Linked DNA regions of Homo sapiens. The protein of the gene in region 2 interacts with the protein of the main gene of each other region in a biochemical or structural test. Each region holds a gene or a part of one and is shown on either strand. Other genes may lie near its edges.

Region 1 (7,957 bases), 650 kb from region 2:
CCAGCGAATGCACCTATTCAGCTGTTCACTGCAGCTCAGGCTGTTCTCATGGACCTGAAAGAGAGGAGTGATGGCAAGGTGAATGCTGGCCAGTTGTACAAAGAGCCTGGGCTTGGGTAGATTTCAAATTCAAAAGAGCCCTTCATAGTAGTGCCAGGTTGAGGGCCATAAACAACTTATATCCCACACACTTCAGCTTTCTTGACAATATGTTGATCCAGCTGCACAGAGTGGGAATAAATAACAGTGCAGCTTACCACACTCAAGTGGAAAATTGACCTGCAGAGAACTCCATGCAGAGCGACTTTGTAGTTGCACAAAATGGGAAATTAACTGGCTAGACAGTAAGTCTGGGGAAGTAAAGATAGGAGCTGGAAGCATTTAAACCTGGATAACTGCCCAGTTCAGGAGGCGGGGGGAAAAACCCTAGCATGGCGCTTTTGTCTATAGAGCAACTTTCCAGTACAAAAGCGATTCCAAGTATTTGCAGACTATACCCAGAAGCTTGGTTTTTCATGCCAAAGACACACATATTAAAACTGGACTTTTAAACCACAGCAAGGAAAACACCAATTCCAACTGCATTCGGTTTGGGCTTTCCGGCTGTGTTGAATCCTTCTAAAGGAAGATTTCTGCCCCCTAGCCAAATCTCCCAAACTAAACCATGCTAAGATCGACCAACAGCCAGATACAATTGAATTGTCAGACATGTAAAAGTCTAGATGTGACTCCCCAAATTTCTCTGATCCTGCAGCATGAGGAACTTTGAGAAGAAGTGAGTGATTCCACAGCCAAGTAGGTTCCCCTTTCACCCAGAGTCTCAGAGCTTCTCACCTGAATACCTGGAGTGTCTTGAACCTGAAGAGCCAGGGTTTCACCTTCTATCTGAACTTGTCTAGTATAGAGATTACCTATGAAGGCAAATAAAAGAGATTATGTTCTTCCTTCTTGTACAACTTTTAAAACATTGTGAGTTTTAAGCTAGAAAAAAAATGCACAATGCATAAATGCACACAAAACAGCGATAGTTTATTTCTATTTGGTGGGCTTACTTCAGATTTTTTTTAAAAAACAACAGCAATTTTAACCCTATGTTAGATTTATTAAAACCAGGGCAAAGTTTGCAAGTTTTTGAAAACTTATTTATCTAGTTTTAAACAAAGTTTCCATTTTTAGAGTACTCCCTTGATGCAAATTATCTTGCTCAGCCTATGTGAGGTTTCTGTTTTCTTGAGTACTTGATTCATTCTTTGACTGTAACTTTGTATTTTGGCCGTTAGATATAATGGCTTGCTAGACAAATACTGTTAGTAAACACACAGCCAATGTTATCAGTTGGAATAAAAATGTGATATAATTATAATCAACTCTACATCAAATCAGAAGGCTGCCATGTCTTATCTTGGGATAGCTTATACAGCTCATTTCAAATAATCCCCTATAGGTACTCATATGGTCTACAGAGTTAAGCAATTTGCTAACAGAGCATAGGCAGAAAGCTCTTAAGCCTCCCCAGTGGCTATTCTTAATCATAAGGATTGAAAAATGTGTCCTCTCATTTATTCGGGAATTCTCCTCCTAAAATTCTACCATCCAGTTGTTTGTCTTTGTTAAGAAGGAGGAACTTTAGGTTTACAACTGCTCTCCTTTGGCCTTTGCTTTAAAAGGTCACCTCTGAAAGGCAGCCAGCAGAGAAGGAGAGGGGTGGGGGAAGGAGCTAGGGACTCCTTTTTTTTTTTTTTACGACTTTTGCAGGAGTGTTTTGAAGGGAGAGGTTCTTGACTACAAAGGGTGCTTCCAACTGGGGTCACTATAGTTAAAACATACCAAGGGGAATACTTTCAGGCACTTGATAAAATGATGAATGGGCTTGGAATGGAATGAGGCCAGATGGTAGTTATGGGAGGGGGGCGCCATGGAGGGCTGGGGACTGGGGAAAGTTTTAAGTGGCGGGATCCTCAGGCTCGGACTGTCACTGAAAGAACCTCCCTGGGAAGCGCTGGAAAATGGGAACCGCAGTCCTCCTGCAATGGGACAGAATTTTTCTCAAATGCATTGTCTCACCTGCATTTCTTTCATAGTCACCGATGAATCGTTTGGTGAGGAACCGGACCACCAGTGCTGCACGTCAGAAAAAAGAACGTCAAAGTGTTAACCTTGGAAGTTAGATTGTTCTCCACCCCACCCCCTGCCTGGAAAACAGTTCTCCCAAAGAAAGCCATAGATGGCCACCAAGTGAAATTCCTACCCTGTAGCTCCTTGACCCTTCTTTCCAGACAAAAAGGAGGGGGCTAGAAGGCATCGTGAATTATGGCTCTGTGCAGCTGGAAGGCTCACTGGGCCCACCCCCTCCTCTGAGCCCGGCTGAGCCACACCTAAGCCTTCCAGTAGACCCATGTCTTCCTAACCTTCAAGACCTCCCAGGGGGGCTAGCTTCACTAACTCCCCTTTCTGTGCCAGGCATTGCCAGAGGCTCAAACACCCCAAAGTTCTGATGGCGGCGGTGCCGGTGGTCCCCAGAAAGCTGCCTGGCCATTCTTGATCCTTGTTTCCCCCGTCTGTGGAAGCAGGCGGGTGGCGTAGACAACGGCTAAGCCCACTCCCAAGGGGCAGCGGCTCCCTGCGCGGGGACGGAGAGCGGTCGGGCTGCAGCTCCCACCGCTCCCCACGCCTTGTTCAGCCTCAACTCCCGTCAGGGGTCGTCCAAGACCAGACCCAGGGCTAAGCGCGACGACTCACCGGTCTTGCCCACGCCGCTGGCGCCCACCACGGCGATCTTGACCAGGCGGCGGCCGGCGGCGCCCACACAGCAGTCGGAGGCCGCGGCGTTGCCCGGCGCGGGGTACTCGGCGATGGTGCACATGTTCTGAATGAGGCGCATCGCCTCGGCTGCGGCGCACCGCGCGGGAAGGGACTGAGGGACTGGAGAATGCTAGCGCTGCGCGGGAGCGGGCGGGAGGACCCGACTGCGGGGCTCCGCGGTAAGAAATAACAACAATAAATAAGTGCAGGTACGGGCGGGGTGGGGCCGAGCGCCGAGGTTCCGCAGGGCTCAGGCTCCAGACCCAGACTGCACTCGCGCGGCGCGCCGGCTGTTTTCTCCGCGGCCGGCCCCGCCCCCTCTCCCCACAGCCAATCCCGGGGCGCCCTACACGAGGCCCCGCCCCCGGCGCCGCTCCGCGCGCGCGACGCCCCCGGAGGCGCCTGGAGTCAGTGCGGAGCCCCGTGAGGCGCGGGGAGAAGAGGCAGCGGGCGGAGGGGAGCAGCGGGTGGTCCGAGGCGGCGCAGCCCAGGGTGGGCGCCTGGTAGGTCCTGCCGCGCGAGCATGGGGCAGCTGCTGTGGCTGCGGGGCCAGGAAGAGAGCGCAGCCTCCACAGAGCCATTCCGGACCGCTGCCTCCGCCGGCTCCACAGCCCACGCGCGCACTCGCTGCAGCCCCAACCTAGGGCGTCTGCTCTGGGCGGGCCGGGAGCGGTGTTTGCTCCCCGGCTTAGTGCCGCCCGCCCTGATTTGGAGCGATTGCACTGGCTTGGGTACATCCCAGCTCATAGATTCAGCTACAGTTGGCAATCATCCGCAAAGACTCCAGCCTAAGACCTTTAGACCCCCGTAAAATGTGACATTTGAAGCAAAAATATCATCCACGTTTTATCCTAGACCCACGTTCTCTGGCTCTTGTCGACGGCGCAAGCTAACGCAAACACACATGGTCGGACGCATGCACAGCACGCCTAGAAGCGGATCAAGAAGTAATTATAGAACAAGCTTTCCAGCGCCTCACTCAGTCACACCTCCTTCAAGAGCTGTGAAATGGAAAGAAAACAGTTACTCCAGCTGCGACGTCTGAAGGGGCCCCGCACTTCGTCCCTGGTCATAAGACACCGCAAGAGTTTAGTTAAGTGGCTTGATACCAAGGAAGAGGTGGGCCCTGCACTCCTAAAATCCCAAGCTCCGGCCCCTTACAGTCTCATCTGAGAAACACATCTTCAACGGCAGGCCAAATTCCTCCTGCGAGCAACATTCTGTAGCTGCAGCTGATGGCAAGATGTCACCAGCGGCTGATGGCAAAATGTCACCAGAGTCGCGGGTTAACCACCCCATCCGCTATCCAAGGCCCTCTCCCCGCTACCCTTTCAACCTTGTCCCAGAGGCTTTTATGTTGGGGTATGGCAACAAACTCTGTGGCTTTGTGTACCCACCCACATTAAAGGCTAAAATGTGAAATAAACCAGTGCCCTTATCCGCACATGTCAGTCATCTAATTTGACCCCCTCTTCCAGCCAGAACTTAATTGACCAGGTATTTGACAGAATTTTATGATCCTCAGCCAGTTCAGACTCTGAGATGAACCTCTTGTCTACAGAGGTTTAGGTGTTTGCAGGAATGCAAGGAGAAATAGAAAGGTAATCTCAAGGTAGCAAGTTTTCTAGGATGGGCCACGTAATTAGAAAGACACACAACCTTACAATAAACATAATAAAAGGCTGACTTCTAGGGAGATCACTAGAACGAAACAGCCATTTGAGTCAGAAAGAAAAAGCATTTCCAATATGCACCATGTCTTTCTGCATGGTTTAAATCAGACTTGAATGTCACTTCTATAAAATCAAACTTTGCAAGACTGTAATTACAGGTAACCATGTACTTTTAAAATCTTTCCCCTCCAAAAAGCCTGCTATTCTATCATGCTTACATGGTAAAATAATGATGTAGGCTAAAGTACTAGTTTAACATACACACACACACACACACACACACACACACACAGAGACATGACAAAAGCTGTCAAGGGGAATTTTGCTTTGAATCATTTAGTTTCTTGGGCTTGATTTTCATTACCATAAGCCCATACAAAACCCGTGATTTTTCTGTCTGCAACGCAAAGGCTTGATTTGGTGTTCTTATTTTAGATCTAAATGATCTGGCTATGCTTTAAAGAACACAGAAAAGAGAGAAGCAAGAGAAAGATGTAAAAAAGAAAAGAGAGCTATTCAAATTCCAAATACCTAGCATATAGCCCATCTCCACTCCACCTACCTCTCCTTCTGGGACATTCATAGAGTTAAAAAGAGGAAGGAGGCAAGGCAGGAGAAGTGACGATACATAATGAGCGCTTGTTTCATTCTAGGTTGTACACAGGGGTTTTGCATTTAAAAATCTCATTTTACCTTCATAACAGTCCTATGAGGTAGGTATTACCATTACTTCTAGTTGCCGTTATCTATTGCTGCTTAGTAAACCACCCCAAACTTTAGTGGCTCGCAGTTCTGTGTGTTGACTAGGCTTAGCTGGGGAGTGCTTACCTAGGGTCTCTCATGTTGTTGCAGTCAGATGGCAGCTGGGGCTGCTATCATCTGAAGGCTCAACTAGGCTGGACATCCAAGATGGTATCTTCGTTCATATGTCTGTGTGTCAGCTGGAATGGGCAGAACAGCTGGGACTAGCTCAGGCTCTCTCACAACATGGTGACGGGCTTCCCTTTGAGTGAGCATTCTAAGAAACCAAGTAGAAGCTGCTAGTCTCTTAAGACCTACACTTGGAAATTGGCACCGCATCACTTCTGCTCTGTTCTATTGGTCAAGTGTCACAGAGCCCACCCAGATTAAAGATCAAGGGGCAGGAACATCGATCCTATCTTTAAGTGGGAATGGTGTCAAAGAATGTGTGGCCATCTGTAATTCACTACGCTTCCATTTTACAAGTGAGAAAGCAAAGTCTCGGGTTAAAAAACTCTTCCAAAGTTACATATCCTGCAAGGGACAGAGCCTTTTCTTTTTTTTTTTTTTTTTTTTTTTTTTTGTCAAGCTAAAAGAGATGAGGATGGGGAATTGAAACATGAGGAGGGGTTTGGGAAGAAAAGAAAGAAGTATTTTGCCAAGGTTCAATTTTACCTCAGCATCTGGAGTTTCTAGCACTTCCTTTGATCTTAAGAGGTTTAGCCCAGACAATTCAGTCCCTGGAAGCCCTTAGAATGCCAGAATATGAATTCAATAAATATTTATTGGATGTCTGGGCTATGTGTATACCAGACATTATGCTAGGTATTGAGTCTACAGTGGCAAATAAGAAATGCAACCTTTGCCATCCCTGCAGCTACATTTAGCATGAGAGACTGAAGTGAATGAGCAATTTCAATACAGTGTGAGAAAACACTTTGATAGGGAAAATTCAGGAATTACAGAAGCACAAACTAGGACTAAAAACCTGGGTTGTGGCAGTCAAGGAGGGGGTGGTGAAGGAGTTGAGAAGTTTGTGTGTTGTGTACAGTGTGCATGTATGTGTGTGCATGTACATGGGAGTATGGAGCAGGGAGTTAGGAGGGGGCAAGATGGGTTAGTTCGCAAGAGAATAGCACTTGCCAATAGGTGCTCAGTAAATAGTTGTGGATTATAAATGAAAGCATAAGTGAATATAGCAAAGGCCTCACATTGAGAAAATGAATTAAAGGAACGGAGGATAGTTCCTGATGGGTGAACAGAGAGAAAAGCCCTGGTGATTTCTGTGGAGGAGCCCTCATATTGATAAGAAAAGCTCCAGAAGTTGCCTTGGTGCTCCCTTCTTCCATGGGAACATGCCCGCATGGAAGCCAAATGAGCTGCTCCTCTGCCCACATCACCAGGAGTTGCTCCCAAATCAGCCCTCTCTGAACATCCAGGCCTTGAGCAAGAACCAGACTTTATTTTTTCTTGAGACTTTTGTCAACTCTGCTTGTTTAGATCCAGTAAACAGACACTCTTTAGTGGTTTTAAGCAGAAGACGATTTAATACAGGAAATTACCTGCTTTCAATGTCTTTGGAAGGGCTGGAGTAGCAGGCTCTAGGCTGGACCTGCAGAAATGGCTCCCAGAGCAGCACTGCAGAACTGGCCCACGCAGGAAGCTGCTGCCTCTTCCATAATCAGGGGAACACAGTGGCTGCCTCTGTTATTCTCTCTCAAAACTCACAAAGCTAGAGACCAGACATTGGAAAGTTGCTGCACAGAAGCCCAATATCTCAATTGTGCATGGCAGCAGAAAGCAATCAAGCAGCAGAAAGAATCTTTCCTCCTTGCTTCTGCCTTTCAAATCTCTGAGCACATCTAATTAATGAAATTCATTTTATCTATTACTCTAGCTGCAAGGGAGTCTAGGAAATGTCATGTTTACCTTTCTAGTCCTGGCAGTACATGAAGACACACTGGAAACAGATAGACAGGAACTCAGTGTGAATTCACCATTTCTTCCACTCTTCTCTAGCAGCCCAAACAACACAAAGGCCCAGAAAAGGACAGATCATGTCCCAGTAGACATTTAACTTTCAGTTATAAAAGGGTATAATGAGGTTCTTTTTGAATTGATTGCTTTGAGACCATATTCAAGACCACTGTTGTCGTTGCTTTTATGTAGTATGTATTGACACCTATGTTAGGCTGTTCTTACATTACTCTAAAGAAATACCTGAGACTGGGTAATTTATAAAGAAAAAGGTGAAAAAAGAAAAGAAAAGAAAAGAAAAAGGTTTACTTGGCTCATGGTTCCACAGGCTTTACAGGAAACAGTGCTGGCATCTGCTTGGCTTCCAGGGAGATCTCAGGAAGCTTACAATCATGGCAGAAGGTGAGTGGGGAGCAGGCACATCACATGGCAAAAGCAGGAGCCACAGAGAGAGAGAAAGCAGGGGGGGAGGTGCCAGCCAAAGCAAGAGATCACTTATCACCAAGGCAATGGCCCAAACCATTCATAATGGATCTGCCCTATTGATCCAAACACCTCCCACAATACTCCCACCTTCAATACTGGGGAATACGATTCAACATGAGATTTGAGTGAGATATCCAAGCCATATCAACACCTATCTCCACTCTTTTGGACTGTTTTCCTGTAGTCTGGCTACAAAGAACGTCTGTTGACCTCCCTTGCTCAGAATCATTTTCCATTCTTTTAATAAGAGCACTCCCAATTTTCCTTTAGAAACCTCC
Region 2 (7,322 bases):
AAGGGGTTTTCTGTGTTCCTTGTATTCATCCTTCAAGTTCATGGCCATCACCCATCACCATCTGAGAGTACTTAGTGCTCAGAGTAACTGAAAGGAAGCATAAATCCTCCTTGCTTTGAACACAACCCAGGGTTTACCGTATGTTCTTGTCCTGGCCAATGCTAATCAGCTCTTCCCCGCTTCTTCCATCTTTAATGCTTGTAAATCAAGCTGCCCCAGTATTAGTCACCACAAAAGAGATAATTAGTAAGTACAAGCTGCTACCTTCATAGATCACTCTGTCTCTGGCTCAAGCTAAGCCAAGAGACTGGAGAAAGCTAACATTACACAGTATGAGTTGCATTAGCAGAACCTTTATTACACAAAGCACGTGAGTCTGAATACTTAAATCAAGAATCTGCACCCTCCCCAGCTGTTGTAAGAACAGCTGTGATATGAGACCAAAGGAAAGGCTACTTACCTACCTTATGAGGTTTTCCTTTCCTGGACTCAAAAACTTATCTTTAGAACCCCAAGAATTTGAAAGTGCAATGGTTTCTTAATGGCATAATCTTGGGATTCAGATATTTTTAAAATACTGTAACCCCCATTGATGGGGCAGCAGAGAAAGGTGCCAGTTTCTTTTACTAGGACATGCTGTGTCCTCCCAACAAAGCCATGGCTTGTACCTTTGCCAGCCATTTGTCCAGCTGGAAAATAACGTTACTATTCTGGCAGGGCACATGGTCAAGAGCATTGCTGCCTCCTCAGAAAAGACCATTTCCAGACCAGCTAGGAACTTCCTTTCCATGCACTGCTAATCAGATACTACCAGCCTGCCTGGAAGTGTTTCATTCAAGTATTTGTTACGTTGGAGCCGCTCAAATGCAAGTTGGCTTTTATTTTTTCCATCACACAGTGTTTCACCAATTTTTGAGTTTCCCAGATCAACCTCTTCACTATGTTTAAACAGAATGATTCCAAGCCAACGCAGCTAATCGGTACAGTAAAACCTCACGAATTCAAGCCAGGAATTTGAACTCTTCCAGCTGAGGACAAGCACTAGCAGTGTAAGTTGGAGGCCTGTTTTCTCATCTAGAAGATGAGGACATAAGGTTGTATAACCAAACTCCTTTTCTACTAATATTAAAACCACATTTCATCTAATCTAAGATGCCACTGACTATGAGAGGTATGTTCATATAACAGCAAAGAAGATGACATTTTAAAATGTGCCATCAGTTAAATAATCCCCAAACACCAAAGATATCCCCATGATGCATAGATTGGTGAACTAGACTCTTGTGGCTTTGAAATCCATTCAGATGAATTTGGCAGCTTCTCCTGCCCTTGGTTGTGTTGCTTGGCATGAAATAGGCAATCCTTTTTGAATGTTCTCAATAACAAAATGTAACACCACTTTTAATTCCCTTGGGTGCATCTTTCTAAGCAGATAAAACATTTGCTTGTCCCTTTGCAAGAAAACACAGAATTGTGATTCTGCTTCTAACAATGAATATGTACTTCATCAATATCCAATTGTTCTGTTTTTGAGGCTTTCTATAACTTTTCATTTTAGTACTGAATCATTACATTCAAATGGCAATTAAACTCAATGGTGTAATACCAAGTATGTAGGCAACTCAATGGAAGTGATAAGGGGTACTCGTGCGACTGGGTTTGCAGTGCTGGGATGGTGACGTCTGCATCATGACTGCCACCTGGCAACAGAAACTTCACAACCCCATCAATCACACATGCATCCTGATTTTAGACATGTTAAAGCATGAAAAGAGCATCTTAGGATGTACAAAATATGGAAATAGCGACAATCTCATGAGAACTGCTTGTAGTCATGTAGATACCATGACGACTTTAATGAATTTGCATTCTAGTACTTTTGGCAAAAAGTACTAAACCCCTGATAAGACTTAATGTCGATCAAACCTCACAGCAATCCAGAAAGTATATGCAAATTTGGAAGTTTAGCCAGGTAAATAAAATTTCCCTAGATCACCCAGCTATGTAAATTTCAGAGCAAGGATTTAGATCTAGACAATAGGACCTTCCATCTTGCCATTTCTATGATTCTATGGGCAGTAAAAATCATGTGTGCATATCACGGTAGACTGACCTTTGATTTCATCTACTTTCAAAAACATGAAGCATCCCTGAAGTAGGATCTCAAAGGGCTATTTAAAATAGCTCAATCATATAGGGTTTTGAGTAATGAATTGATAAGAATTTATAATTAACACATCCATTATATGCAAATGGACACTTCCTAAAGGGGCTCGTGATATGATTTCTGCCTTCACAACTGTGGAAACTGGAGTGGTTACCTGTAGCTACCCTCCCCACAGTAGAGTGAGATAGTTAAATCACCATTTCCTGACCAAAACCTAGCCTGTGCGCTGCAATGACTTGCCGAGTGGCAGTGTTCATGTTCATGGCAAAATATGGACCTAGATCAGCTCCAACCTTGGTCTTCTGAGCCTCGAGAATGTTCTTTTTCAACTTCTTTCTATTGCACCAATAACTTGCTTTTCTCACAAAGTTTGGTTTTTGTGGAGTTTTCTGGATTTTTTTTTATAGCATGGATAGTGAATGGGTAGAGACAAATATGTTTTTGCTAAAAACCACAAAAGCTGTTTTACTCTCTTAATGGTAGACAACATGGCAATGAATGACACTTCTCAGATCATGGGAGCCCCCAACACCAGGGAGGCCCTCCCAGACCAGCCCAGAGAAAGAGAATGGAAGCCACCAAGCTGCCACTAGAGGATAGCAATGCTGAACTCACTCCTGTGGCTTTGTGGTGAGGGTGATTCTGTTTGCATGAACAGTTAAATATGGAATCTGGGAGGAGCTTTATATTTACGTTCAGTGCTCTGGGAACAAAATCCAAAAGAAGAGTGAGGGTGTGACTAAGGGCTTTCATGGTCAAAATAAACACCAGCAAGCAGGAATTACCAAATAGTTGAACATTGCCAGCCTCAAACCCTACTCATGTAGACACCATGGTGACCTGAATAAATTTGCATTCCAGCAGCCAATGTAGAGATTGCTTTAAGAGAATGCAGTGGGCGTCTTTAAAAAATCTCAAATTATGAATTCACTTGGTTGGCAAATGTATATTGAGTACCGATGTGTGAAAAGGGAAGAGAGGATATAGCGGCAGGCAAATCAAATTCCAAGTTCAACAAGCCTATTATACATTCTTCAATTGTATTTGAAGAGGGCTGACTGAGGAATGGCAGCAGAGCCAAAGCTCTTCTTCACCTCCCCGCTGGTTCTGTTACAGCTGTAAAGGTGCCTCCCACTACGGCCTGACCAAAGATAGGAAGAGGCGCTCACAAGATGGCTGTCCAGACGGCTGTGCGAGCCTCACAGCCACGGCTCCCTCCCCAGAGGTTTCTGCAGCTGCCACCATCTCCTTAATGACAGACGAGCCTGGCCTAGACAACCCTGCCTACGTGTCCTCGGCAGAGGACGGGCAGCCAGCAATCAGCCCAGTGGACTCTGGCCGGAGCAACCGAACTAGGGGTGAGTCAAATGGGTGGTTGTCCGGGAATGGGCTCCTTGGCTTGCGATTGCCCTCTGTGGAATACTTACTGTGGAAAGTTCTGTAAATGTTTTTTAAGGGGAAATCGTTCTGGTAGTTTTGGCAGGAACCCAATGTCCAATTCGCCAAAGTGAAATGAAACCGCAAGTACCTCCAATCATTAAAACTGTGTGTAATCTGACTTGGTGAAAGGGGCTGAAACTAGACCTAATGATTCATCACTCCTGCAGTGTCAGTAATTTTTCAGCCATGCTGCTCAAGAAAAGTGGTATTGTATTCAGTTCAGCCCAGAAACAAAAAAGAAAAGCAGGATTTTAAGCACGTCGTACATATTTCACTGTAGAAAACTTAAAAAATACAGGTAAGCAAATTCTACAATCCTACCACCCAGAGGTAGTCACTGTTAATGTCTTATTGTGTATATCTTATCAGATATGTACATAAATGATTATTTCTATTAAATCATAACTACTGTTCCTCCTGTCGCTATTCCTCAGCACGGCCCTTTGAGAGATCCACTATTAGAAGCAGATCATTTAAAAAAATAAATCGAGCTTTGAGTGTTCTTCGAAGGACAAAGAGCGGGAGTGCAGTTGCCAACCATGCCGACCAGGGCAGGGAAAATTCTGAAAACACCACTGCCCCTGAAGGTAAATGAACTCCCCATAAGGCTGGATGGACATGGGCTGGGCTTCCAGGGGGACTTCAGGGATGACGCAATCTGATCACCTTCCACCTTCTGTGACCCCTCTCTTCCCAAGGGTATACAATATTTTTTACTTTGATTAGCCTACTTCTCACGTATGTAGCTAAAGGCAGAAAGTATTATCATCTTTTTACATAGATTGAAGAAAAAAGTGTTGAAACCCTCACCTTCAGGCGCTAGTACCATTATGCATATGAGGAAGAATAATTATAATTAATGAGTGAAAAACATTTAAAACAATGACTGGCACATATAATAAATGCAATATATATATTCGCTCTCCTTACTCTTTCAACTACATTTGAGGTGTGGTGCTGAGTGTTTTACATGCATTTCCTCATTTAAGCCTCACAACAACCCTATGAGGTAGCTACTATTATTCCTCTTTTTTTTTTTTTTTTTTTAGACAGAGTTTTGCTTGTCGCCCAGGCTGGAGTGCAACGGCGGCATGATCTCGGCTCACTGCAACCTCTGCCTCCTGGGTTCAAGCAATTCTCCTGTCTCAGCCTCCCAAGTAGGTGGGATTACAGGCACCCACAACCACAACCAGCTATTTTTTGTATTTTTTAGTAGAGACGGGGTTTCTCCATGTTGGTCATGCTAGTCTCGAACTCCTGAACTCAGGTGATCCACCCACCTCGGCCTCTCAAAGTGCTGGGATTACAGGCATGAGCCACCGCACCTGGCGCCACTCCTATTCCTGTTTTACAGATGAGGAAACTGTGGCACAGAGAGGTTACTTAGGTTGCTCAAATTACCTTGCTAAACTTTGAATCCAGGTAACATGGCTGTAGAATTCATGCAAAGGAAGCTATTGAGTCTTAGATCCCATATGTTTTCCCCAATATAAGTGGAGCTGAGGAAATACTGTCCTACTGTCTTTGCATTTTATGTTAGAACTTTAGAGTAGTAGTAACAGCTTTTTTAAAAAATTGAGCTCTTTCTGCATGCACATAGTGTTTTAAGTCATTTAGATGTGACAATAATGTTAAGGGGATAGGACTATCATTCCCATTTTACAGATGAGAAAACGGAGACCCAGAGGGATTAGGTAACTAGCCCAGTCACCCAGCTAAAAAATGGCAGAACCAAGATTTTAAATCAGGTCCTCTGGTTCCAGAGCCTACTCTCTTAGCTCCTGGGTTATACTGCCCTCTACTCTTGGGAGTTGGGAGGCAGAACCCAAACCACTGTATGTATTATGCCCTCAAAATTCATGAGCAGCCTTATCAGACCTTTTCTTGTATACTTATTCATGATTGCCTCTCACCCTGCACGTACATGCTGCATGCTCTAACAGCTCTCAGCTTATTACAGTCCTATAAATGCTGTATATCTTTCTTTCACCTCCCTTCCATTATCCAGCCTGCGCTCCCACTCTCCTTTCAGCTGGCATTCACGTTCCTTCTTCCAGATTTAGTGTAAGACTTTGCCTCCTCCTGGAAACCTCACTCCCTCAGCCCCCTTTTTAGGTGTTTTTGAAGCACCTGTATCAGCGATGATCATGTTTCATGTAACTGTACCTCAAAGTGCAGGGATTATTTTTCTGAATCTTTGTTCTTAAGGCCTAGCACAGTGTCTGGCACATAAGTGTCCACTAAATGTCTGTGCAATGGCTAAATGAAAAGATTAGAACTTCCTTTCCACCAGTCTCTTCCTCTTATTAAAGACTCTTCAATTCCACTCCATGTAAAGTTCTCTACTACTTGGGCCAGACGTGGTGGCTTACTCCTGTAATCCCAGCACTTTGGGAGGCTGAGGCAGCCATATCACCTGAGGGTGGGAGTTTGAGACCAGCCTGGCCAACACAGTGAAACCCCATCTCTACTAAAAATACAAAAATTAGCCAGGGCATGGTGGCGGGCACCTGTAATCCCAGCTACTTGGGAGGCTGAGGCGGGAGAATTGCTTGAACCTGGGAGGCAGAGGCTGCAGTGAGCTGAGATTGTGTCACTGCACTCCAGCCTGGGTGACTCCATCTCAAAAAAAAAAAAAGTTATCTTGAAAAAGATTTATTTGCATATTTATTACAAAAACATTTATAAAACAGATTATTATATGTAAGGCACCGGCCTAGGTGCTGTCATTTTATATAAAGAATATAAAATGTAGTTCTTGGCATCAAGGGGTTTATTCAAGACTAAAATATAATAAAATAAAAGCATACCTCATTTTTATTTTTACAAATTGAAAGCTTGTGGTCACCCTGTAGCCAACAAGTCTGTTTGCTCCATTTTTCCAAAAGCGTGTGCTCACTTCATGTCTCTGTGTCACATTTTGGTAATTCTTGCAGCATCTCAAACTTTTTCATTATTATATCTGTTATGGTGACATGTGATCAGTTATCTTTGGCGTTACTATTGTAATTGTTTTAGCGTGCCACGAGCCATGCCCTTATAGGTCAGTAAATTTAATAATTGTGTGTTCTGACTACTTCACTGGCCATTTCCCCATGTCTCTCTTCTTGGGCCTCCGTATTCCCTGATACATAACAGTATTGAAATTAAGCCAATTAGTAACCCTACAATAGCCTTTGAGTATTCAAGTGAAAGGAAGAGCCACATGTCTCTCACTTTAAATCAAAAACTAGAAATGAACCTTGGTAAGGAAGGCATATTGAAAGCTAAGGTAGGCTGAAAGCTAGGCCTCTCGTGCCAAACAGCCAAGTTATTAATGCAAAGGAAAAGTTCTTGAAGGGAATTAAAAGTGCTACTTCCAGTGAACACATGATTTACAAAGCGAAACAGCCTTATTGCTGATATGGAGAAAGTTTGAGTAACCTGGATAGAAAAACAAAACAGCCACAACATTCCCTTAAACCAAAGCCTAATCCAGAGGAAGGTCCTAACTTTCTTTGATTCTGTGAAGGCTGAGAGAGGTGAAGAAGCTAAAGGAGAAAAGTTGGAAGCTAGCAGAGATTGGTTCATGAGGTTTAAGGAAAGAAGCCATCTCCATAACATAAAAGTGCAAGGCAAAGCAGCAAATGCAGATTGTAGCGAAGCAGCAGATGCTGATTGTAACGAAGCAGCAAATGCTGATTGTAGAAGCTGCAGCAGGTTTTCCAGAAGATCT
Region 3 (8,210 bases), on a different chromosome or scaffold from region 2:
CAACTATGTCCAACCTAGAGTATATCCTTGTTTAATATGTAGAGTGTTCATTTCCAGTATGCTCAGTATTTATCATCTTCAACTGTTCTTCTTTAATTTCTGCATTTTCTACATTTGTTGTTCTCTTTGTTTTAAACATTTTTCAAATTGTTCAATAATTTGCCTCTTTTTGGAAGTGAATTCACATTCCACTTGTTGAGTCTTTTTTATGTATACTTTGAATTTCGAGTGTGTGTGCAGGGTTATCTTGAATAGAAATTTTTGAAAATCTCTTCCTCTCTTTACTCTCTCTTTTCCTGAGTTTTTTAAAGTAGCCTCTGACTTTCCAGGGCCCACAGTCAGAACTAGGCCTTACATGGGTGGCTGTGGGCTCTCTTTCAATCAAGAGAAAATCAGATCCAAATCCCTGTTTCAAGCAGAGAGCCTGGCTCCAGCCTTCCTCTATAGGCAAAGCACTGTGAAACTCTGTTAGCTGAAGGAGTCAAACTCTTGGTGCCTCTACACTAAGAACAGACCCTCAAGACCCAGGCCCAAGAATGGTTTGCTAAGAACAGATCCCAGCAAGCCAGCCCCTGATTCCAGCCATTGTCCTGCAACTACATCCTTGAAGACGTTTATCTTGCTTTTGAGTACATCTGCCTTCTCCCCTTCCTCCTCTTCTTTTGTTTTTAACTATACCATTGCTATATGTTAAAGCATGGTATCAGCTGATCTTGATCAGACATATCAAATGCCTCATTCTAAACAACCTCTCTCCTAATTCTTCCTTTATCTTCAAACCCAACTATATGTGAAGCCTTTCCTGACCACTCTTACTTGGAATGAACTATCTAAGCCTCCTCTGGTCTGCTGTACCCTACTTCTACCTTCCTTTAGCTTTTACTGAGCAAGAATTTCTTGAGTGTGTGCCACTCAAGTGTGTGCCAAGCCCTCTGTTTGGCACCCTGGTGTAAACATGAGAGGGACAAGGCTCCTTCCTCAAGGGACCAAGGGTTTGGTTGTCAAGCTGGACAGGCAAACAAACCATTGTGCTCCAGTCTGCAGATACCCAAGGTCCGGGTGACACAGAGAAGAGAAGGATGTGGTCTGTACTGTCTGGGAGTGGGAGGGGGAAGGAGCTAAACCCCACAGGAAGGAGATGCTTGAGCTGGGTCTTAAGGGAGAGGAGTTTGGTAAGCAGAGAGCAGAGGTGAGAACATTCTTGGCTGAGGGAATAGCATGTTTAATGGCTCTGAAGTGGAAAGGACTAGGGTCCGCTTGAGAAATGAGAGATGCGGAACCTAGGAGGAGTGAAGAAGGTGACAGACAAGAGGACAGAGACTATGAAACCAAGTGTGCAGGGCCTCACAGGCAACATTAGGGATCCCCGACATTCTACTAGGGACACCAGGAAGTCCTTTCAGGTTGAAGCAGGGGGTTGGCATGATGAGATTTTCTCTAGAAGGGACCAGAGCAGAAATGGGGTTGGCCAGTTAAGAGGCCATTGCAAAAGTCCAGGAAAGAAGGACAGCAGCTAGATGAACTTGGGGAACTCGGGGTGGAGGAAAAGAAAGGTGACAGAAGTGAGGCCAAATTGATTGGTATTTCCAATTAAGATAAAACAAGCCCTGATAACTCTAGAGTTTCTAGCCCTGGACAAGCTAACTCCTTCCAAGAACAGTAACATCTCCATAGACCTGAATTGGCGATGGGGACACAGCAGGCAATTTCCCAGCCATGATTCCAAGTTGTCCCTGCAGTTCATGTCTTAGGAGCAGTGGCACAGAACCCTGATGGATTTCCTACCACTGCTCTGCCCGGTTTTGCATTTTGAATATGTCTTTAATCTACATTAAAGTTTTCCATTTCCATGGACCAGTTTAAATCAGCATAGAAACTGGTTACTATCTTACTCTATCTACTTCTGGATATTTTTTTAAATAAGGGGCTTGCTTAAAGGAGTGCAGTCATTCACATTTCTTCATGCCATCCCAAGTCAGTGCTACAGTGTGGGGTTTGGGAACTTACCTGGCAGTGATGGACAGGCCCAACCCAGCCCTCTGCACACCTGGTCTACAGAAAGTTTCTCCAGAACTTGTGCAATTGCATCTGTTCTGCCACTGCAAGGCGGATGTCATTGTGGTCACATCGAAAATCCACCACGTTCTGCAAAAAATATCACTGGGGTCACAAAGCCTCCTTGATGGGTTTGACATGTTGCCTTATCCTCCCCACCCCAACCCCCATGGTGCTCTGTACAAAGGGGCTGCCACCCCACTGGCTGACACTTTTCTGAGCTGCAGGGCTAGAAGGCCCCCAAGCTGATTTCCGTGAGACTAAGATGGAACTAGTCTATTTTAAAGCAGTACACCCCCAAATCTGGCCATCATCACACTCAGGGGCCTGATTCTCAAGATCCAAATAGGTGGAGGTTGACTCTGGCCCCCTCAGTGCTTCCACCACTGGGCAAGTGCAGTTTCGTGTCTAGCCATCTTCCTTACCACCCTGTTGATTGTAGCCTTTGGCCAGCAGGGCCATTTGACACTCCTGATACAGTGCTGGTGGTGCTGAGCAAAATGGCAAACTACCATCTACAGCAAGAATTGATGTGTTGGTGGCCTGTCTGGACTTGATTGCTTCCTTGTCTCCCTCATTCATGTGAGTTGAGGGACAGCACTGTGTCTACACAGCGAGGGACCCTCATACCATGCACACACACACACACATGCATACATCGATAGGCCAGTTATAACCATCATTGTAAAGGTGTTTTCTTCCCCAACTCCCTCATCTCCCATTTGAAAAAGCTGCAGGTACTGGTGCAAGCCCTCAGTGATACAGATACATTATATCTACCACAGCCTTGCTAGTGTTGCAATAATGAGAAATCGCCTAAATGTCCACTAACAGCAGAATTAAATTATGGAACACCCATATATAATGCACCCATTTATAAGAATGGGGTGGATCTTCATCTGCTGAACGCTCTCCTTCTACTGTGAAACAAGATAGGTTGCAAAAAAATATTTATCTCATACAATCCCATGTGTCTAAGATGATGTATAAACATCTGTTTATGTACAGATAATATCTAAGGGACACATTCAACTGTAACAGTGGTTTTCTGTGGGGAGCAGGTGACAGTGAGGAGAGTTGAGACAGGGAACTTTGTGTTTGTTTTCGTACAAGAATATATTGCACTGTTGTCACTTAAAAGACATTTTTAAAAATTTCTGAATATAAAATGTTACATGTTCCATGCTAGAATAAGCATCTTGGATGCTTTGAGGGAGCTGGAAGGAGGTACTGAAATCAAAATAATTAAAAAAAAAAAAAAAAGCCCATCCAGGCCCTGATATGGTGGCTCACACCTGTAATCTCAACACTTTGGAGGCCAAGGCGGGGCAAAGCGCCTGACCTCGGGCATTGGAGACCAGCCTGGGCAACATGGTGAAACCCCATCTCTACCAAAAATACAAAAAATTAGCTGGGCATGGTGGTGTGCTCCTGTGGTCCCAGCTACTTGGGAGGCTGAGGTGGAAGGATCACTTGAGCCTGGGAGGTAGAGGCTGCAGTGAGCCGAGGTGGTGCCACACTGCACTCCAGCCTGGGCAACACAGCCAGACCCCATCTCAAAAAAAAAAATAGCAACAACGACAAAGAACCCATCCAACACTTAAGTTTGTACTTCACAAGGACAAGGAGAATGCAGTTCAACAAGCACAGCTCAGCCCATGCTGTGTTTCTGGGGATGGAGGACACATCATGAAGTCTCGGCATGGTCCTCGCCCAGCAGAACTAATGGGTGGGGCAGACACATGGAACACAGAATGCCAGGTGTCTTGTCTCTAGGATCAAGCAGTAGCAATGTGAGGTGCAGCCACTATGGGATTCAAAGTGGAAAGACTCAGAAACCCTGAAGAAATGGGAAGAGGGCATGCCACTGGAGCTGGAAGGTTTCAGGACAGCAACAGTCAAAAAGGAAAGATGAGCCTGTAGTCCCAGCTACTCAGGGGGCTGGGGTGGGAGGATCACTGGAGCTCAGGAGTCCCAAGGCCAGCCTGAGCAAAACAGCGAGACTCCAGTCTTTTTTATTTTATTTTATTTTTTAAAGAAACAAAAAGGAAGGGGACACACATGTGTTAGGGACAGAAAAGAGAAAACCGCCTCTACCCAAGCATTCACCCACATCACCCACACCTCCCTGCAGAGCACCCAGAGCTGGGGGTGAAAGAAATGAGGTCCAAATGAGACAGCACAGGAGCTGCCTCCAGGGCTTAAACAGACCAGCATTCCAGGCCGAGGGACCGCAAGTGCAAGGGCGTGAAAGCACAGAGCGCAGGGGTTGAATGACTTCAAGCCTGTGAAGCTGCAGCTGCAGGTGTATGGGAAAGGCAGGGCAGGGGGCTGTGCGGAGGCTGGGAGGAGCCAGCACCCAAGGGCTGGTCAACCAAGCTGGGGGTTGAATTTCCATCCAGCAATGCAGGCCATGGGAGGCTGCAGCAGTGACGCTGTCAGATCCCCTTTGTGAGAATAATAATTTTTATAACAACGTGGCTGGAGGACTGATCAGGAGAGAGACTGGTGTGAATTGAAGGCTGTTGCAATGGCTCCAAGAAGAGATGAGGCTGTGTGGTGAGTTTAGCCGCTGGATGAAAGGCCGGAAGAATGAGGTCAGCAGCGCACTGACACCGACACCCAAAGCTTCGGCTGCTGCCGCTCTCATGGAAATCTCCTGGGGGAAGGGAGAGGGTCCTTCCTCGGTGAAAACTGGGGCTGCTCTAGCGAGTTCCTCAGAAGCGGGCAGGTCGCTAGTTCCTCTTCCTTTTCAGCCCTCAGTGCCCATTTTGCCAATAAAAAGTCCCAAGGTGACAGTACAAGAGACGCCTTTAGTGAAGGCAAAGGAAGGGACACTCCCCTCCTTTGCTGCCTACTCTCGCCCTCACTTCTTGAAATCTTTGGTCTCCCTTCACCCACTCTGTCACTCTCACAAGACAACCATTTCCAAGGACTATTTCCAAGCCCTTTTCCTCATCCCCAAACCCGCAGTTTTCAGCTGCCCCCAGTTGCCTGGCCAGGCTGCCTCGACGGCCCTATTCACGGGCCCCAGCCTCCTCGCCGGGCTGGAAGGCGACAACCGCGAAAAGGAGGGTGACTCTCCTCGGCGGGGGCTTCGGGTGACATCACATCCTCCAAATGCGAAATCAGGCTCCGGGCCGGCCGAAGGGCGCAACTTTCCCCCCTCGGCGCCCCACCGGCTCCCGCGCGCCTCCCCTCGCGCCCGAGCTTCGAGCCAAGCAGCGTCCTGGGGAGCGCGTCATGGCCTTACCAGTGACCGCCTTGCTCCTGCCGCTGGCCTTGCTGCTCCGTGAGTTTGAGACGCCCGGGAAGGCAGGGGATGGGGCGGGCGGGGGGCGGGGGGCGCGGGACTGCGGGCTCAGCCTCGCTGCTTGCCGCCTGCAGACGCCGCCAGGCCGAGCCAGTTCCGGGTGTCGCCGCTGGATCGGACCTGGAACCTGGGCGAGACAGTGGAGCTGAAGTGCCAGGTGCTGCTGTCCAACCCGACGTCGGGCTGCTCGTGGCTCTTCCAGCCGCGCGGCGCCGCCGCCAGTCCCACCTTCCTCCTATACCTCTCCCAAAACAAGCCCAAGGCGGCCGAGGGGCTGGACACCCAGCGGTTCTCGGGCAAGAGGTTGGGGGACACCTTCGTCCTCACCCTGAGCGACTTCCGCCGAGAGAACGAGGGCTACTATTTCTGCTCGGCCCTGAGCAACTCCATCATGTACTTCAGCCACTTCGTGCCGGTCTTCCTGCCAGGTCCGCGCGCCGGGTTGCGGCACCTCTCCGCGTGGGGCTTGGGGTTCACCTCAACCTGTTTTCCACACCTGGGCCCTGCTTTCAAGCCTCTTAGCGCACCTGGAAGCGACTTAGATACTGTTCCCATTTCACAGACACAGCAAACTGAGGCTAACGCGAGGCTGAGTAGGGACTGGGGATGGCTTTTTACGTCCGGCCGATCTGGACTCGAGTTCGGATTCTTGTGTGATTCTGGGCAAATGACTTAAATTATCTGCGCCTCCGTTTGCTCGTGGGTAAAATGCGGACAGCAATCAACCCGCGCTCCAGGGTTGCTGGTTCAGCCCGGGAGAGAGGCCAGGTGCAGGGGAGCTGGCTCCTGCGCTCCGGCTCTGGGCGCCGGGTGCGCTGGGCTGAGCCGAGGCCCGAGCACAGGGGTCCGCGCGCATCCCGGGGTCCCCATCCTGTCTCCTCTGCTATCCCTTCTCCCAGGAAAACCGGGGGGAGGCGTCCCCGTGGGGAAAGGTGCGCGAGGCCGGGGCTGGGGCGCCTCCATAACCCCAGCCTGGCCCCCAACCACGCTCTGTTGCTCTTGCAGCGAAGCCCACCACGACGCCAGCGCCGCGACCACCAACACCGGCGCCCACCATCGCGTCGCAGCCCCTGTCCCTGCGCCCAGAGGCGTGCCGGCCAGCGGCGGGGGGCGCAGGTGAGGCGTGCGGGGGCCCGGGGCGGGGGCGGCACGCACCGCGGGGAGAGCCCATGCCAGGGACAGCCCTGATACTGTAGGTAGAGTCAAGGGCTGTCCAAGTGGTGGGAAACCGAGATCTGAGGCGGAGAGACGTTCCCGGGACGGTGGGGCGGTTGGGAGGTCCCGGGCCCTCTCCTAAATGTCGGCGTCTTTGGTGTCGTCAGTGCACACGAGGGGGCTGGACTTCGCCTGTGATATCTACATCTGGGCGCCCTTGGCCGGGACTTGTGGGGTCCTTCTCCTGTCACTGGTTATCACCCTTTACTGCAACCACAGTAAGTCCCGAGGAATCGCGGCGGGAAGGAGTCGGCCCCGCTCCTGCCCTTGGCTCTGCTAGCTCCAGGCGGACCTTGCGAGGGGGGAGCTTGGGGTTGAGTTTTCTGGGACTCCCGAGCTGCCCCGCAGGTACAGGCACTTCTTTCTGGGAGATAGAATGCGAGAAAGCCCTTCCCGCTCCTTGCGCTCTCGGAGAGGTTTTGGGAGACAAAGCCGCGTTCCCAGAGCCGCTGCAGCGGGTGTGTTCCGTCGACGAAGCCCGCAGCGCGCGCGCACATGTCTGGACACATGACAAACGCCCGCCGGGAGGGGGCCGCTGTGGCCGAGTCAAGTGCCCAGGAGGGTTAGTCAAAACCACCATCAGTTTGAGGTTCGTCCTTGGCCCTCTTCGGCGAACCGCCCACCCTGCTTTGGGTCCCATGCAAGAGAGGTGCCGGATCAGGTCTGCAGGCTCCCCGCTTTCGCCCGCGTCTGTAGTTGCAATTTTTTTTAATTGATGCTTGAGACGAAGGATGGATAAGAAGCCCTTACCCGGCTCTCAAGAGTTATAATCCTCAAAGAAATAGGGGAAAGGAAGGAGAATTCGTAGAGGCAATTCCCTATTTGCCTCATCCAATTTCAGCCCATGATCGTTCTGAAATGATTTTTTGTAAAACCAAAAAACAGCAGCAACAACAACAGCAACAACAAAAAATACACTGTCTTTGGGGACTATTGATGGATAGGGGCACTCACTTTTTCCCTTCTTTTTCCTTATCCAGGGAACCGAAGACGTGTTTGCAAATGTCCCCGGTGAGTCTCTTTTGAACTCAGCCTGCTCACCTTGGCCAGCCCTGGGGTGGGGTCCTGGTTTCCCCAGCAGCAAATAGTGGGAACTTTTCCCAGAGAGAGGTCATGGCCGTGAAATCCTGGGGCAGGGAGTCAGCCAGTTCCTGAGCAAAGAGAGGCCAAGGCTGGCATCTGGCCTGTGTCTTTGAGAAAAAGGAGGCCCGGGTTAGGCGGGTGCCAACAGCAGTGTGACTCCAGTAAATCTCCATCTTATTTGACCTGGCACTTCCAAAAAAAAAAAAAAAAAACCTGAGGGATTCCCCCAATTTATCCTAGCTCCTCGTAGGACCTGACCTCCTCTTTATTCTGATTATTCCATCTGGGTTTTGTTGTTTTCTTAAGAAAACAATTTTTTTTCCTACTTGGCTGGTCTAGTTTTTTGAGGGAGAGCCAATCTTTTATCAGCTGAACCAAAATAATAATGGCTTTGGTTGCTAACTTCTCTGTGTCATGTAGGACCTTGGTTTGCTGCCAAGGACTGGAGTAGAAAAAAGGGGAACGAGATGCAGGGACAATTGGCTATCTGGCAGCTCAAGTGACTGCCTCATCCAGTTTCAGCCCATGATCACACACACACACA
Region 4 (7,322 bases), on a different chromosome or scaffold from region 2:
GCCCATTGTCCCTGCTCTTCCCACCCGCTAGTGGGCATCTCAGCCCGTTGTCCCTGCTCTTCCCACCCGCTGTGGGCGTCCCAGCCCGTTGTCCCTGCTCTTCCCACCCTCTGTGGGCGTCCCAGCCCATTGTCCCTGCTCTTCCCACCCGCTGTGGGCGTCTCAGCCCATTGTCCCTGCTCTTCCCACCCGCTAGTGGGCGTCTCAGCCCATTGTCCCTGCTCTTCCCACCCTCTGTGGGCGTCCCAGCCCATTGTCCCTGCTCTTCCCACCCGCTGTGGGCGTCTCAGCCCATTGTCCCTGCTCTTCCCACCCTCTGTGGGTGCCCCAGCCCATTGTCCCTGCTCTTCCCACCCGCTGTGGGCGTCCCAGCCCTTTGTCCCTGCTCTTCCCACCCTCTGTGGGCGTCTCAGCCCATTGTCCCTGCTCTTCCCACCTGCTAGTGGGCGTCTCAGCCCATTGTCCCTGCTCTTCCCACCCGCTGTGGGCGTCCCAGCCCTTTGTCCCTGCTCTTCCCACCCGCTGTGGGCGTCTCGGTCCATTGTCCCTGCTCTTCCCACCCTCTGTGGGCGTCTCGGCCCATTGTCCCTGCTCTTCCCACCCGCTGTGGGCGTCCCAGCCCTTTTTCCCTGCTCTTCCCACCCTCTGTGGGCGTCTCAGCCCATTGTCCCTGCTCTTCCCATCTGCTGTGGGCGTCTCAGCCCATTGTCCCTGCTCTTCCCACCCGCTGTGGGTGTCCCAGCCCATTGTCCCTGCTCTTCCCACCCTCTGTGGGTGTCCCAGCCCATTGTCCCTGCTCTTCCCACCCACTGTGGGTGTCCCAGCCCTTTGGGTTCCTTGGGATCCAGACATCACCCTCAGCCTTTTCCTGAGAGGCCCAGCTCCAGCCCGTGTGCCATATCCCAAAGCTCCCCTCCCTGAGCCACCTGCCAGGCACTCACTTCATTCTACCACGTCCAGCATCCTCCCAGCCCCCGAGGCAGGAGGTCACTGCTGGCCTGGACGTGGCCTTGGTCCTGCCCAGCCGCATCCCAGGTGCCTCCCGAGTGCCCTGAGGTGGCGGTGGCTGCAGCCTAAGCTTGGCAGGCGCCTACCTTGCTCCTCACCACTTGGCATCCTGCCTGAGCCCCACAAACTGGCCCTCGATGCCACGACAGCCCCGTAATTCTGGCAGCCTTGGGCCTGGCAGCCCAGTTTGTAGGATTAGCCCTGCAGAACAGGGTGGCCACAGGGGTGGTGACAATGACCACAGGACATGGGCCAGGCTGTCACCCCGGCCCTTCTTTCCAGCTCCTGGGGGCCCCCTGGGCACAGCTCGAGAGCCACTGCTTGACCTGCCAAGGACAGGGAGGTGCACCAAGGCCATTTCCCCAGTGGCAGAAACTTCGAGCCAGGGGCTCCACCCAACAGGGCCGTCCCCACCACAGTGCAAGGTGGCCAAGGCGCTGGGGAGCCAGAGTGCAGCCTGGGAGGTGCCTATGGATCTAGGGGTGCCAGGTGCTGCTGGTGGCGATGAAAGCTGTAGGAGAGGCCCGTCCTGTGTCAGGCGGTGTAGGAGCTGTGCCTTCTGGATAACGTCCCAGACTTGGGGTTCCACACCCACTCCAGAGGGACCCGGGAGCCCCGAGGTCTGGAAAATGCTGCCCGACACGCCCACCCAGTTCTCTGAAGCCTTCCTCTCTGTCTCTCTCCTCCCTCCCCGCTCCCTCTCCTCTGCCTCGGCTCCCATCACCTCCACCCTCCCAACTCGTGGGGAGACGTTGGGCTCCAGGGGATGCTCCCAGCCTGGCCTCCTGGACACGCTGTGGCCTTTGCCTGTTGATCGGGGTTGGTATTTCTAGAACCCTAGACCAGGGTTTAGGTCATGTCCCAGAGGGCCGTGACTTCACTGTGGACACCCGTGTGTTTCCCACCGGGCGTTCCACCAGAGCTGTGGCCAACAGCTGCCCTCACGAGGCCCAGGAGGGGACAGCGCCTCCTTGCATTTGCGAGACCTGGGAAAGGTGCCTGGCCGTGCCCACCTGTCCACTGGGAAGAGGACATCGCCCGCTCCAGGTGGCTCCCAGAGGTGCCTGCACCGGCACTTCCAGGTTGAAGGCCACCAGGATGATACCTGTGTTGCAGCTGCCTGGCGCCTCTGCAGGGGTTCCGACAGACGGGGTGGCTCTGGGGGGCAGTGGTGCTCCAGCTGCTGGGCGCTGCCGAGCGCTGGCACGTGGGGAACACACTCCTTTTGACTTTTCCAAGGAAGCTGGGGGTTGAGGTTTTGTGAGCGTCTCTCCGTGCCTGGCCGCCTGTGGAGGCTGTGGTTTGCATCTTACCGTCTGGGCTGGGACCAGGACGGGGGCTGGGTGCTGGGAGGACGAAGCGCTCAGCCCGGTGCCTGTGGCGGGGATCAGATGTCCTCACTGTCGTGGCGGGGACGTGGACGGTGGCCTCGGGGTGGTTGGCTCACAGACCAGGGTGGCCTTCCTGAGCATCCCGTAGGGCCGTGGGACCTGAAGCAAAGGCTACCTGTTGTTGACGCCGTGTGACAGACGCCTGCTGCTCATGCAGCTGCGAGGCTATGGGTTCTGGTCCCGGAGGCCTCCGTGGGTTGGGGTCAGACCCTCCTCCCAAATCTGAGGTGATGCTGAGTGAGGGAGTGGGGTTGAGCTGCTCAGGCAGATGCGGCTGCTTTCCTTATGGGATGAGGCCCCACGGGGCAGGCCCACGGTCGGGTTCCTGTCCTCCCAGGGGCCAGGAGAGCCCCCGGCATCACAGGAGGATGCCATGGGCGGGAGGGGACAACGGGCATGGGGAGGTCTGCAGGCCAGCCGTGGGGTCCCTGCTGACCTGGAGGGTTCTCAGGGATGCAGAGCAGTGGGACAGGCTAGAGGAGGCGCCTAGGCACCCCAAACCGGAAGTGCAGCTGGGACAGGAAGGGGGGCGGAACAGGTTGGGGGATCACAGGAGGGTCTCGCTAGGGACAGGGCCAGAGGGATTGAGGGGGAGGGTTGGGCCCTCGGGAGGGAGTGAGGGTAGGGTGGGTCCTCAGGAGGGCGAGGCCAGGTGGGGGCTGCATCTCAGGGAGGGGCGCCCGCCCTGGGAAGCTGAGGCTTTGGTGGGTGCCGGGGCACATTGGGCCAGGCCTGCTGGGATCCTGTGTGCGGACTTGGCCTCTCAGAAGGTCTTCCCAGTGGGGAGGGGCTGCACATCTGGCCAGCGGCCCGGGGGCAGGTTTTATAAGTTGCAATTAAAGCTCTTGGCCTTCTAGTTAACCGAGGCAGCGTAGATTAAAGGGCAGTTTTATGCAACCAGGACGGATCTGATGAAATCACCAGCCACAGAGATTGGAGTGGCTTTGACTGTAGATGCTCATTTTTTCCCGTTTGATCCTCCCTGCATCTCAGAGGTAGCTGTTGACCTGGGTCTTAGAAAAAACACTGTGCGTTCGAGCGCTGAGAATTCTAGGGAATAAGGGGATATTTTTTCAATGTGGTTTTCCTCTGTGTTAGGAACTCAGTCATGGGCTGGTTGGTGTAGTATTGGCTGGTTGATACAGCGTTGGCTGGTTGGTGCAGCGTTGGCTACATGGTGTAGTTTTGGTTGGTTATTACAGTTTTTATTGGTTATTGTAGCTTGGCTGGTTGGTGTAGCGCGCGGAGCGTTTCCAGACATCAAACCACGGGTCTGTGCAGATTCTGTCTTGAACAGCTGCGCCCCTCCTTCTGTCACCCTGTGCATTTACACTCCTGTCTGTAACCAGTGAAATCCCCCACAAGTGCGCTCAGAATTTTTAGAAACACGGCACGGGCTGCGTTTACATTTTCACTGTATTAGCTTTATGCGTGGAGTGCGTGATGTGCTGTTTCTCACTTGACATGTTCAGCAAATCGTGGGAAACACTTAAAAATCCTTAAAAAATACTCCACCCCGTCCAACCCGTCGCCCGCTGCCTGTCCTCAGGAGCCACCGCACCTCCGGCTCCTCTGAGTTCTGGCACTTTCCAGGAAGCCACTGCTGCTGCCCCTCATCTGGGCAGCGATGTGGCCTCCATGAGTGACCTCAGTTAAGGCTCTTTAGCAAGGAGTGCTGTACGCGCTGGCCCTCAGGCCCCAGGGCACCTCACTGCTATCTGTAAGGAGGCTCAGGGCACCCAGCACCATGCAGGAGGCCTGAGCTCTGCCTGCTGGTCTGATGGGAGGTGAACTGGGTGCCTGAGGGGGGATTGTGGTGCGGGGGGGGGGGTACTGAGAACCCTGGGGGCTTCACCACACAGGTCCCCTGCACCCTCCCCACATCCCAGAGGAGAAGGTCTGGGCTGGAGCTCCCAAGGGTAGACAGGGATGCCTCGGGGCACCCACCTCAGCATTTAGGGTCACCTTCCCCTCCCTACCAGCCCTCCACAGTGGCAGTGCCTGCGTCCCTCAGCCTGGGCATTGGTGGTCTTGGCTGCCCCCCTCCACAGTGACAGTGCCTGCGTCCCTCAGCCTGGGCATTGGTGGCCTTGGCCCCCCTCCGCAGTGGCAGTGCCTGCATCCCTCAGCCTGGGCATTGGTGGCCTTGGCTGCCCTTATGACACCATTTCTGTCGGCAGCCACCTCCAAGCACCTGCACGAGTCCACCTGAGGGGCTGTAGAGCTCCTAGTATCTGGTCCATCCCACGAGGATTCTGTGCCCATGGGGGCTGCAACTCTGGGGCTCTGGGCACTGCTCTGCACTCCATGGAAGCCCACGACTGCAGCCTCACCCATTATTCTGATTTTGAAATAAATAAATAAATAACTACAGCCTGGGTTTTAGAGATGATTTGGTTTTATGCCAGCGTCCACCTGGACAGAGCTTTTCCCTCACAGCGGTGCCTCCCTGCTGTGTGGATGTACAAAGGCCTCGCCGGGCTGGGCTCATGGGGCCCCTCAGGCTGCAGCAGCCAGTCCCGGAATGTCGGGACTGCAGCCCCCAGGAGGGAGGCCTACTTTTTAATAATCAGCTGTTTTGTTTCTTATTAAAATGAGGGCAAGCTCTCCTGCCTCCCGCTGGGAGCTGCCCACCCTGCCTTGGCACCGCCCTGGGCGGCCAGCAGGAGACCTCAGCTCTGGGGGGCCCTTGGCTCAGCCACAAGGGGGGCTGGGGGCCTGGGTCTCACTCAACAATATTCAGCCTCGGCAGCGCCACCTTAGTGCCCATGTGTGGGTGGGGGTCTGGTCCCTCTCTCCCCACCCAAGTTCTGGGGTGGCAGCTGGCCAGCCTGGAACCTTCCACCATACCCTGTTTGGACCCTGGCCAGTGACCACGGTGGCAGGAGGCGCTTGGGGGGGTCCAGGTGCCCTCGAGGGTGACCCTGCTCAGCCTCCTGCCTGGGCCAGACTCCAGGAACCCCAGGGACCCCGGCAGGGCAGACAGCCCCATAGGAGGTCAGAAGAGATGAGGGGCACATGACCCCTGGTCAGGAGGAAAGGATGAAGCCGTGGGGACTGTGAGGGCAGTCCCAGCTGGGCAGCCCTGGGGTCCTGTGTCCACCCACGGAGACACCAACTCGGCACCAAAGTCATCTCCAGGGTCAGGCTCTGGCCGTCCAGGTGGACGGGACTGAGCTCTGTGCTGTATCTCCTTGTGGGCTTTCCACGGCTTTCCAGGGACCTGGAATCAGAAGCAGAAACACAGCTGCCCATCCCTCCCGCCCGCCTGCCCGAGAGCTGCCTGCTCTCAGGAAATGCTCCAGGGCGGTGTGTGCTGGGCCGAGGGGCTCCGCACCTCCACCACTGCGCAAGGCCCCTGCCCTGACCACAGGTCTGTCTCCTTCTCTGTGTCCTGAAGGCTGCAGATTATTCATGAGAACCATGTGAGCTTCGGCTCAGCTGAAACACCGCTGGGATGTGTTTGAAGTTTTTCCCCATTTTCCGTAACTGGTCTCGGCCGGCAGCCCTATAAGAGGCATGTTGGGGTCCTGGGCAGCCATGCGGGCAGCGGCTGGAGTCCTCGTGTCAGGCTCCAGTGGGCAGTGCTGGGAGCAGGCCCCAGAGCAAAGGGGCAGTGTGTCTCCTCTTGCATTTAGGGTAATCCAGCATGGGGGCCCTGGCCAAGGGGATCCCCAGGGCAGCACTGACTGAAGGGGTCATTCCAGGCAGCTGCATCTTCTACCTGGAAATGCTTTGGGGAACCTGACAACACAGGAATGTCTGTGTGTTTTGCTTCCTAAAATCTGAGGCTGAGTGGGGCACGAAGGGTTGGTGTTTCTGGACCCAGAGATTGAGACGCCCCAGGAGGCCTGAGGCGAGTGTCAGGCTCCAGTCCAGCCGCCCAGAGCTCCTGCCCATCTCCCCCGCCTGCCCACTGAGCTATGTGGCCACTGACTGCCCCGTTCTTCCTGCAGGAGCTGCCCAATGGGGACCCCAAGGAGGGGCCTTTCCGGGAGGACCAGTGTCCCCTACAGGGTGAGTGCAGCTCCCGCAGCCCTCCCTCCCCAAACTCACAGACTTCATCCCGTACCAAGGCAACGCCGAAAACCACCCTTAAAACAACCCCGTGTGCGGAGCGAGGGCACTTCCCAGGCTTAGACGCACTTTGTTCTTAAAAAGCCTTGGCAGCACAACTCACAGGGTCCTCGCTGGACTGGCAGCTGCGATCTGGCAGCAGAGACCAAAAAGGCCTGTCCCATGGGCAGAGCCCTAAGCGTTACCTTTATGTGTTTGGAGTCTCTGTGAGCCTGTGTTTGTGGATGGGGGTGGCTCTGTATAAAGGGGACCTGTGAATTTTCAAGTTAGCCCTGGGCTGGAGGATGTGTGAGATGCTGGCCCAGCCTAAGTCACTGCCACGCGTGTATGCCTCAGTGGCACCAGTCCTACCTGTGGCGCGTGGCAGGTCAGCACTTGGCTTACCTGTGGGTCTGTGGGAGGGTGCTGGGAGGCCAGCAAGCAGGGCCACCTTCGGATGGCTGCTGAAGCCAAGAGAGGCACCCACACCCCCTCAGTGGGAAGGCAGGCCCAGAGCATCGTCCCAGCTCAGGCTCGACGTGCACCTGTCTGCAGGTGCTGAGCCCGGACAGTCCCACACTCCTATCCTGGGGACGCAGCTTGCAAGTGCTGGAGAATAACGGAATAATTGTGCTCCAGAAACCAGAGGACTGTTCATCCATCCTGCCCAGAGGCTGCGGGGAGGGGGCCGCCTGTTGACACACTCAGTGCACAGGTGGCCTGTGTGGCCTGTGGGCTCAGTGCTAGGATTCTGGAGTGGAGGGCCGGAGGGACTGTGTCTATGGGGAGGGGGCCCAATGATGACACAGGGAGCATCTCCTGGAGGCCCAGGCTATGTTCCCCTATCTGTGCTCCTCGGAGTCTGCT

The links.
Region 1: the proteins of LNX1 (region 2) and RASL11B form a complex in vitro, tested with the Homo sapiens proteins (2 studies listed by BioGRID and IntAct, with this or other methods).
Region 3: the proteins of LNX1 (region 2) and CD8A form a complex in vitro, tested with the Homo sapiens proteins (one study listed by BioGRID).
Region 4: the proteins of LNX1 (region 2) and NKD2 form a complex in vitro, tested with the Homo sapiens proteins (one study listed by BioGRID).

What each region holds. Positions count from the first base shown.
Region 1 is NC_000004.12:52,857,432-52,865,388, reverse strand, and holds the start of RASL11B (ras-like protein family member 11B), read right to left. Parts: upstream 3,073-7,957; 5' UTR 2,882-3,072; coding exon 2,740-2,881; intron 2,122-2,739; coding exon 2,065-2,121; intron 912-2,064; coding exon 835-911; intron 55-834; coding exon 1-54.
Region 2 is NC_000004.12:53,504,189-53,511,510, reverse strand, and holds part of LNX1 (E3 ubiquitin-protein ligase LNX), read left to right. Parts: intron 1-3,283; coding exon 3,284-3,525; intron 3,526-4,041; coding exon 4,042-4,194; intron 4,195-7,322.
Region 3 is NC_000002.12:86,787,914-86,796,123, reverse strand, and holds the start of CD8A (T-cell surface glycoprotein CD8 alpha chain isoform 1 precursor), read left to right. Parts: upstream 1-5,210; 5' UTR 5,211-5,298; coding exon 5,299-5,347; intron 5,348-5,442; coding exon 5,443-5,796; intron 5,797-6,373; coding exon 6,374-6,484; intron 6,485-6,690; coding exon 6,691-6,801; intron 6,802-7,563; coding exon 7,564-7,594; intron 7,595-8,210. UniProt on the Homo sapiens protein: Integral membrane glycoprotein that plays an essential role in the immune response and serves multiple functions in responses against both external and internal offenses. In T-cells, functions primarily as a coreceptor for MHC class I molecule:peptide complex.
Region 4 is NC_000005.10:1,025,797-1,033,118, forward strand, and holds part of NKD2 (protein naked cuticle homolog 2), read left to right. Parts: intron 1-6,355; coding exon 6,356-6,416; intron 6,417-7,322. UniProt on the Homo sapiens protein: Cell autonomous antagonist of the canonical Wnt signaling pathway. May activate a second Wnt signaling pathway that controls planar cell polarity.